2 linked regions of the Homo sapiens genome follow. The protein of the gene in region 1 interacts with the protein of each later gene in a biochemical or structural test. Each region holds a gene or a part of one and is shown on either strand. Other genes may lie near its edges.

Evidence for each region.
Region 2: the proteins of HMGA2 (region 1) and E4F1 form a complex in vitro, tested with the Homo sapiens proteins (one study listed by BioGRID).

What each region holds. Positions count from the first base shown.
Region 1 is NC_000012.12:65,946,468-65,953,771, forward strand, and holds part of HMGA2 (high mobility group protein HMGI-C), read left to right. Parts: exon of another isoform or gene 1-1,657; intron 1,658-1,967; exon of another isoform or gene 1,968-2,240; intron 2,241-4,915; coding exon 4,916-4,948; intron 4,949-5,888; coding exon of another isoform or gene 5,889-5,963; exon of another isoform or gene 5,964-6,069; intron 6,070-7,304.
Region 2 is NC_000016.10:2,233,456-2,236,411, forward strand, and holds the end of E4F1 (transcription factor E4F1), read left to right. Parts: coding exon 1-192; coding exon of another isoform or gene 193-196; intron 197-426; coding exon 427-535; intron 536-715; coding exon 716-933; intron 934-1,127; coding exon 1,128-1,326; intron 1,327-1,403; coding exon 1,404-1,546; intron 1,547-1,625; coding exon 1,626-1,688; intron 1,689-1,760; coding exon 1,761-2,117; 3' UTR 2,118-2,287; downstream 2,288-2,956. UniProt on the Homo sapiens protein: May function as a transcriptional repressor. May also function as a ubiquitin ligase mediating ubiquitination of chromatin-associated TP53. Functions in cell survival and proliferation through control of the cell cycle.

The sequences.
Region 1 (7,304 bases):
CATGTTTGCTTTACCATACATTGTGCCTAATTTTTTTTTAAAAATTAAGTTTGTAAGCTCAATTCAAGCCTCTTTTTATTTAATGTTTAGATTAGTACTAAAATGAACTACTAATGTCTGGGTCCTTTGTTAGCAAGGATTTTCTTTCAATACCTACCAGAAGGAGTGGCTTAGCTGTCTGAGTATCAGCTTTAAAATACCTAGACTTCCTGGAACCATAGATTGTATTCTTAGGAGGGCTGAGGAACTTCTTAATTATTCTGAAATAGGTGGAATGGCAGACCATTTCCTACACAAGTGTCTCTCTACAAAATCTTAAAAATCCAAATACTCTGTGGATTTTAAAAATTCAGTAACTTTTTTTCTTCCATTTGGAGAAATGTTCATTTGCTGTATGACCTCAGAAATCCAAAAATATGTCCTTTCCTTTTGCTTATCTTCTACAGTTTCTTAGCATGTTGTACCCTAAGCTATTTGTATATACTTTAACAATGATATTTATTTGCTTAAGCATTATACTTTCAATTGTGGCTGAGCTAGTCCATTCTAAGGGCTAGACTGCAGAGAACTACTCACTGAAATCCATGTGGTTAGAAAGAGCCCTTTTAAGCTTCACGTGGTATGTTCAACTCATGGGGTCTTTGAATTCTCACCACTTTTTTTTTTTTTTGAGGCAGAGTCTTGCTCCGTCACCCAGGCGGGAGTGCAATGGTGTGATCATAGCTTACTGCAGCCATAACCTCCTAGGCTCAAGCAATCCTCCCACCTCAGTCTCCCGAGTAGCTGGGAGTACAGGCATGCGCCACTATACCTGGCTAATTATTTTTAATAGAGATGAAGTCTTGCTAGGTTGCCCAAGCTGGTCTCGAACTCGTGAGCTCAAACAATCCTCTCAAAGTGCTGAGATTACCGGCATGAGCCACCACACCCGGCCACAGTTTCGTTTTAACATCTGTTAATCCAAAAAATTTCTTCAAAGTCCTTTGGTGATTTTGTCAATGCTGCTATTGATGTTTTGTTCTGGGAGGAAGCTCTCTTTCACCCCATTGTATTTTAGAAGTTTCAATGCAACCATGGAATGAGGATTTTCATTACAAGCTTTTTGAAAGGTGCAATAGTCTCAACATAATGAACTCAAAATCTCAGTGCATTGAAGGGTTTGCATGCCAAGTTGACCAAGTGCCTAAACTGTATAAACTCCCTATGTGCACACTTAGAATTGGATCATCAGATTTGTCTAAACAACTTGAAAGGCTTTGCTATCTGTTCACTGAACAGTCATTATGATGTACACACCTTTAAGAGGGACTCAGCCCCTCCACAACTGATAATGAAGGAAGAATCTCCAAGTGAGGTGAGGCAGCTGGACTTTGCAGGTCTGACTCTTGTCCCCTGCGATTCACTTTTCATCAGCAACCTGGAGGAATCAGAACTAGGCCCTGCTGAACAATCTGGAGATGAAAATCAAAGCCGGGAAGTACAGCTTCTCCTGGATTGGATCTCGATTTGACTTTTTTCTTTTTTCTTTTTTTCAAGGAACAGACTGGGTTTCTTCAGAGCATTATATCAGGGATTAAGAGAATCAGTAGACTCGGGTTGTTTTGGTTTTAGAAAAAGATCTCAGACGATTATTTAAATTCCCTATGCCTTGGTTTCCCTGTGAGAAAATGAAAACAGTAAGGCCTGGACCCTCCCAGTAACAAAGGGGCAGATGTTAAAAATATAAAGGATTCTAGCTTTCATATAGGAAATGCATGTGCAAAATATTACTCATTTATTAAGGTGCATGAAAATTTACTGTTAACAACACAGAAGACTAATATGTATCATTGATGTTATTCAGGTCTTATAAAACTCTAGTGGCCAGTCGTGTTTTTAATGCCAAGAACCCCGAGGAGCAACTGGTTTCTAAGAATCAACACTTAGTTCTGAGCCGAGAGATGCCCCAAGGAAGATAAGAGACTTACAGTTTGTTTGGCGTCCAAAAAGCTTTCCAGACAGCAGTTTGTTTCCTTTCCCTTTTTATGAATGGTGGTAGTATTATGCTTCAGTCTGCGTTTTCTACCAAAGCCATTCATAAAAATAAAAACAAAACAAAATAACAACAACAAAAACTTTCTCGGCACAGTCTGGAGCCATTGGGTGCCAGAGGCTGGGAAAACATCCTGGCAGCCATAACCCCAACCAACATTGAAAGTATTCAAGGGTCTGTTTGTTTGGTGGTCTGAAAAGTATGAAGTGCTGTGTCTGAGGGTAGCTGGTAGAAGTTCCGTGACACGGACTAGGCCGGGAGCCAGGGCTGGCAGAGATTCAGACATTGTCTTTCCCCTCATTGAAGTGTCAGGACCTAATTCATGGAAAATTGGGTGAGCTGGCAGCTCTTTCAGAGGATTTCATTGAGCTGCAGTGTGCAGGAGTCACATGAATGCGGGAGCCTCTGCCAAAAAAGGAGGGGGATTTCTGAGCAGTAGGAACCAGTCAGCCTGCAAGAATGTATGTGGATTTGAAACGGTTTGGGAGTAAACATGTGTACAGGTGTAATCAACAGGGAAAAATGGGAGGAAGATGAGTGCTCTCTTCTTCCAAATGACCCTTTGGAAATGAATCCTCTATTAGCCCACGCTTTTGTGTCCTAAGAGGCAAGAAGTCCTCATCGTTCTTGGTTCGATTTTCCCTGGAGAAAACATCATCTCAAAACTTGGGCTTTTGTGATGACGTCATCTTTACTGTGATTTAAAGTCAAATGGAAGAACGTCTTTTCCTTTGAGCAAAAGTACCTTGCCATTTATTTTATTTTTATTCTGTCCATCTAAAAAAAAAAAGCTCTAATGATTTTTATATGGAATTTTTAATGTACCAGCAATAAACCACTGTACCACTGAGAGGAACTCTGAGAGGAAGGGGCTCTCAGAATGAATGAACAGGGGCTAGTGAATAGTGAACGTATCCTAAGTGCTGTTATTTGGGAGAACTGGTGCAAGAAAGCATGTCGCTATCCACATCAGAGTACCTCAGGTGTACTCACAAATCTCAGCGATGTGTAGATAGAATAATACATGCCTATATTCAGACATGAGAGTGAGGACTGGAAGCAAATAATCCATCGAAAAGCTCAGGCTTCAAATCCATCTTTTATAATGCCAAAGAAATAAGAAGTATTCTCTAATACTCGATTGGAAAGTTAGGCAGGCAGAAAAACATTCCCTCGGATGTTTCACTCAAAAGAGGAGAGTTTTGCTCTACACATACAATAGATACAGATATAACACAATATAACACAATATTCTTCCCATGATACCACGAAGAAACTGAACAAACTCACAGAATTATTTGCAAATCATAAGGGACTTGAATGCAAAACATTAAAAGAACTCTTACAACTTTGTTATGAAGAGATAGCAAATTTTTTTTAAATGGGCAAAGGATTTAAATAAACATTTCTTCCCAGGAGACATATAAATGGCCAATAAGCACATGAAAAGATGCTCAACATCATTAGTTGTGAGAGAAGTTCAAATTGAAACAGCAATGATGTTTAACTTCACATCCACTTGGATGTCTACAAGCAAAAAGACAGGCAATAACAAGCATTGGCATGTATACGGAGCAATTGGAACTCCAGATTCATTGCTGGTGGGACGGACTGCAAAATGGTACAGCTGCTTTAGAAAGCTGTCTGGCAGCTCCTCAAAAAGTGAAACAAAGAATTACAATATGAACCAGCGATTCCACTCCCAGGTACATACCCAAGAATGAAAACATGTTCGCACGAAAACGTGTATATAAATGTTCATAGTAGCATTATTCATAATAGCCAAAGGGTGGAAACACCCCAGATGTCCACCAACTAATGAATGGATAGGTAAAATGTGGTATACCCATACAAGGGAAAATTATTTAGCATGAAAAGGAATGAACTGCTGATGCTACCACATGGATGACCCTAGAAAACCCTAGGCCAGTGAAAGAAGCCACACACAAAAGACTCTACATATATAGTATGATTCCACTTACATGAAATGTCAGGATAGGTAAATTCATAGAGACAGAAAGTAGATTCATGGTCACTTAGGCATGGGAGGTGGCTAGGGACGTGGAGGGTAGTGGGGAGTAACCACTAATGGGTACAAGATTTCTTTTAGAGGAGATGAAAGTGTTCTAAATTAGACTGTGGTGATGGTTGCACAACCCTCTGAATATACTAAAATATACTTTAAATGAGTGAATTATGTGGTATGTAAATTATGTCTCAGTGAAGGTGTTTTAAAAAAATAAAATATTAACAAATTAGGTACCTTCACTCCTCAGTTTTGTGATATATAGGCTAAAAACAAAGTGAATCAAACAGTTAAGTTTCTTTCAAGCTAGTTGGCTTGTATGCCAGAATTTAATTGGGAATTGGAATTGTTTTCACTGAGATAACCTATGTTGTATTTCCTTAATATAGAGAGATCATGAATAGACATTTTTGTTTTTTTTGAGATAGGGTGTTGCTCTGTCACCCAGGCTGGAGTGCAGTGGCATGATCACGGCTCACTGCAGCCTTGACCTTTCTTGGCCCAGGTGATCCTTCCATTTAGGCCTCTGAGTAGCTGGGACTACAGTTGCAACGCCACCACACCCTGTTAATTTTTGTATGTTTGTAGAGAGAGGGTTTCACCATGTTGCCCAGCCTGGTCTACAACTCCTGGGCTCAAGCCATCCGTCCGCCTCTGCCTCCCAAAGCGCTGGGATTATAAGCGTGAGCCACCATGCCTGGCCAAGTATAAACACTTTTAACATTGGATATACCAGTTGAACTTTATACTTTCCTCTTTCCTTTGCAGACAAGTATCTGTATTTAAAATATGTACACCTAATTTTTTCTATAATGTATATTTTCTTTTAAAATATATCTTTTTCTTTTCCTCCTTAGCCACAACAAGTTGTTCAGAAGAAGCCTGCTCAGGTAAGACATAGTCATTAATTTTTTTCTCCCAATTAATATAAAAAGTGAAATATGTACTGAAAAATGTCCCCAAACTAAACCTTATTTCGCATTTTCTTACTTTTGGTTATCGTCCTGCAGTATTCCTGAAAATGTGTTGTAGCCTTCAAAGTTAGGAATATATAGTCTGCAATCGTACCATGAAAACCTCCCAAAATGTAAGGTCTTAAGTGTACAAAGCAAATATAAATTCTTTTAAAAATAAAACTATTTTATTACATTGCCTCATATGTAAAACAAATATTTAATCTTATCCTATATTTTACCAATTCTTAAACATCAAATTTTGTCCTTCCAACTGACTGTCTATATTCTGTTGACACCAGACTTATATTTAATGATTCATGACTGGAAACATATTTCTTCATTGAACAATTTCATAATATTTGATGATCCCAAAACACTCCAAAGAATGCTAGAATACTTGGAAATTAAGTTATACTAACGTGCAGACTGATGCATTCTTAGATCTTATTTAAATAACTGAATCACAGTCTCTGAAGTTTTTGGCAACATCAAATTGGAAAATAGCTCTACGTCTCTTGCCCCATATTCCTGGAGCACCTTGTCCTCACTATAATCTGTACATAGAAACATTAAAAAAACATATTTATTGAGGAAGCATATCTTGAAGAAAACAAAACTGAAGTATAAATTAACCAGGATTGCTAATAATGTGAGCCAGTATTAAAGTATAAGAACGTCCTGCTGTTCTCTTCCCTTCTGTATGTAAATAGTCATTGGAGATCCAGGTGGTATCATGCTGAACCTGCTAAAATAAGTAGTAAGCAGTGTCATGAGCTATCAAATTAAGTAGAACTCTTTCATGTAATTTTAAGTATCCATGAAATTTTTTTCCCTAGAAGTCTTTACAAATCTACCTTGCATCCTGTTTTCTTAGGTCAATGTTGCCTTGCCTGGGAAGGACCACCCGGGCAATCTTATATATCTACTGTTCTCTAAAAATGCCACTTAGAAGAGAATTGAAACTTCCAAACACATGAAAGGATCCAAGGAAAGTGTCTTCAAACAATTACATATGAGCTTTAAGTGGAATAAAAACAGAGTTACCATGAAAAAAATCATTTTCATTGCTGCTCCCATACCTAAAAGCTAAGAGTGGGAGAGGGGTGCTAAAAAAAACCCAGTGTTTGTGCGTCTTTAAGCAATATTTAAAAATATATACATATAAACAAAAACTTGACATTTTCATTAGGAGAACCCAAATATATTTAGCCTCTCATCCTTTAACTGTACAAAAATCAAGAGAAAGTAAATTGATAATTCTGTGCATTTGAGTCAAAGGATGAGGCAGAGTTCACATTTGCATCACAGGCTGTGAACTATAGATTAATCACTTTATGTGGTTTGTTAATATTGATTCAGCCCTTGTGCTTAGTGTCATAGGGAAGATGAGTCAAACAAAGAAAAACAGTCACTGCATCTGAGAAATGTATTTATATGTATATGCCTGTGTCCTATCCAGTGGTATGCTGGAACCAGCCCTTGTGAGCAAATAGTGAACATCTCTTCTGAATTCTGTGTTCAGTGATGTCAAGTAGGTAGCTTGAAATCCACTATGGTGGGAGTATTTACACCATGGAAAGTGACAAATACTACAAATCAGGACTTTTTTTTTTCCTGAGGAGCAAGTAGTTAAACATTTACCTCCCCAGCATGGCCCCACCCTTCAGCGATTCTGTTTATTTGGTCTGGAGATCCATCATATTTTTTATGAACTCCCTAAGTGAGTTTAATATGCAACTAGAGATGAAGACACTCCATGAAAACACATGAGAAGATGTCTGAACATTTGTTGAGCAAATGACCACAGAATGTCAATGTGTATGGGACACACGGGGGATACAGATGAATGAGTGGAATGCCTCAGGTTATCAAGGGGATGATAAGACTGGAATTTTCTTGTTTTGTTTGATTTTGTTGTTGTTGAGTTGCAGAAGGGAAAACTGAAACATAAATTAAGGGAAAGAAATTACAGATGAGATGAATGGCATATAGAAAGGTAGAGAGGCAAGAACAAATACATCATAGGTGGAGATTATTAATATGGCTAGAACTGATTGCAAGTTGGACATTAATACATCAAGAAATAATATAAGTGAAATCACAGTTGTTTTTCCCAAGAGAATTCAGAATCTCAAAGAAGCCACAAGTGGATTGAGTTGATCTTCAAGGATCAATCTGGCTATCTTACAGACCCTGTTCCAGATTTGCCCTTTATAGGAGAGTTCAGACTCAGAATTATAAAAAAGAACATGAGCTCATTGGGCTACCTAATTTATATTGTGTAATGACA
Region 2 (2,956 bases), on another chromosome or scaffold:
CTCCCCTGCTCCAGCGAGGGCAGCCGTGAGAACCTGCTGCACCAGGCCATGCAGAACTCCGGCATCGTCCTTGAGCGCGCTGCTGGGGAGGAGGGTGCCCTGGAGCCAGCTCCTGCTGCCGGGTCCAGTCCCCAGCCCCTGGCAGTGGCAGCCCCGCAGCTGCCGGTACTGGAAGTGCAGCCGCTGGAGACAGTAGGTGCCAGCACCACCTGCGGGCTCCTCCCAGGGCTGGATCCCAGGGGCTGTCCCCACGCTGGCCTTCGCCTCCCTGAAGTGGCTTTCTGCAGTGACTTTGTCCATTGATCTGTTTACTGCCTTCCCTGGGGCCACAAGGGAGCCTGCCAGGGTGGGGCCCATGGTTGTGTTCTTGGTACTGCCAGGGCACAGCCTGCCCCGGGTGCTGGAGACCTTCCTGTGGTTCCCCAGCAGGTGGCCAGCGAGGCCTCAGCGGTGCCCAGGACCCACCCATGTCCTCAGTGCAGTGAGACCTTCCCGACAGCAGCCACCCTGGAGGCCCACAAGAGGGGCCACACCGGTAGGTGATGGGTGGGTGTGTGGCCCATGGCAGTGGATGGGCTATAGGTGGCCGGGGTGCTTCTGGGTGTCCAGGGTGGGTCCATAGACAGCAGGGAGCCAGGGGATCTGTGGGCAGGTGGCAGGCGGCCTGGCGGGCCCGCGGGTGATGGGCTTGGCCTGATGCTGTGTGTGGCTGCAGGGCCGAGGCCGTTCGCCTGCGCGCAGTGTGGCAAGGCCTTCCCCAAGGCCTACCTGCTCAAGAAGCACCAGGAGGTGCACGTGCGTGAGCGCCGCTTCCGCTGTGGCGACTGCGGGAAGCTCTACAAGACCATTGCCCATGTGCGTGGCCACCGGCGCGTCCACTCAGACGAGCGGCCCTACCCTTGTCCCAAGTGTGGCAAGCGCTACAAGACTAAGGTGGGTCTCTGGCCGCAGGACCCTGGCGCCTGATCCCCCCATCCTGCTCCCTGGCCGTGGCCCAGGTGCACCCCCTTCCCTGCCTCCACCATGCTCAGTCTTGACCCAGCCCCTCCCTTGGGCCACAGGCGGGAGGGGAGAGCTGTAGTCTGTTGTGGCCAAGGCCAGGCTGGCACTGACAGGTGTCTCCACAGAACGCACAGCAGGTGCACTTCAGGACACACCTGGAGGAGAAGCCGCACGTGTGCCAGTTCTGCAGCCGTGGCTTCCGAGAGAAGGGCTCACTGGTGCGGCACGTGCGACACCACACAGGCGAGAAGCCGTTCAAGTGCTACAAGTGCGGCCGTGGCTTCGCCGAGCACGGCACGCTGAACCGGCACCTGCGCACCAAAGGTCTGGGCCGGTGGAGGTGGGAGGGGGAGGGGAGGGGGCCGGGGCTTGCCTAGCCCTGACCGAGTCCCCACCCACAGGGGGCTGCCTGCTGGAGGTGGAGGAGTTGCTGGTGTCTGAGGACAGCCCCGCGGCAGCCACCACCGTCCTCACGGAAGACCCGCACACAGTGTTGGTGGAGTTCTCGTCCGTGGTAGCTGACACCCAGGAGTATATCATCGAGGTGGGTGTGGGGCCCTGGGGCCGTGCTGGGACCCAGGGGCAGCCAAGGCTGACCTCTGTCCTTCTGCCCATCTGCCCAGGCCACTGCGGACGATGCGGAGACCAGTGAGGCCACGGAGATCATCGAGGGCACCCAGACAGAGGTGAGGGGTAGGGCAGGCGGGGGCGGGGAGGCTCCCTGGCACAGCCGCTCTTGCTGAGCCGTGGCCCTGCAGGTGGACAGCCACATCATGAAGGTGGTGCAGCAGATCGTGCACCAGGCTAGCGCCGGCCACCAGATCATCGTGCAGAACGTCACCATGGACGAGGAGACGGCGCTGGGCCCAGAGGCGGCTGCCGCCGACACCATCACCATCGCCACCCCCGAGAGCCTGACAGAGCAGGTGGCCATGACGCTGGCCTCGGCCATCAGCGAGGGCACTGTGCTTGCCGCCCGGGCAGGGACAAGTGGCACTGAACAGGCCACTGTGACCATGGTGTCATCAGAGGACATCGAGATCCTGGAGCATGCAGGCGAGCTGGTCATCGCCTCGCCGGAGGGCCAGCTGGAGGTGCAGACGGTCATCGTCTAGCATGAGGTCTGCGGGGTCCTGGCCGGGCAGGGACAGGGCAGAGGACTCTGAGCGCCCCACCCATGCCTGCCTGGCCTGGTAGAGAAGATGGCACAGGATGGAGGCGCCCCAAGACGGACAGTGTACATAAGAGTTTCTTGTTGCTTTACAATAAAACATGAGAACCTGCAGCTTGTGATGTTGTGGCAGTGGCAGCCTCCGCGGCTGGTGCCACCACCTTTGCCCAGGCCCCCGCAGCAGCACCTGCCTCCCAGGCCACTCCTAGACTCACGTGCCTGGCCGCCCCACCCAGGGGCTTCTGCCAGCCCTGGCGGCGCCTTGGTGCTGTGTGGGTGTCATTGGCATGTTGACCAACAGCCTCCTGCCCTGCCCAGCTGGAGCTGTGCCCCCAGCTGCGCTGCCTGAGGCCTGTGGGTGGGTGGGAGGACCAGGGACGGGGACAGGGAGATCTGGGAGCCTCGGCCTCCACCGCAGGGTGAGCAGGTGGAGCAGCAGCAGGAGATGCTGGGTAGGGAGTGTGGCTGGTCCTACCTGCGCTGCCTTGCTTTCCCTGAAGGGATTCTGCTCAGGGAGGCAGAGTCTAGGCGACCTAATTTCTAGGGGCGAGGACAAGAACACAGCCGCACCGGGATGTGGCTGACCGTCTACCTCCCTCCTAGGGGGCTGGCAGGGGCTTCTGGGACGGTTTTGGGACAGGTCTGGGGCACCAGAACCGGCTCAGGCAGGTCTCCCACCCCTTACCCTGGGGGTCTCCATGGGAATGAAAGCCAGGAGTTCATCAGGCACCCAGCTGAGTCGAGGGGGCGGGACCCAGTGCAGCCCGGCCCCTCCCTGGCCCA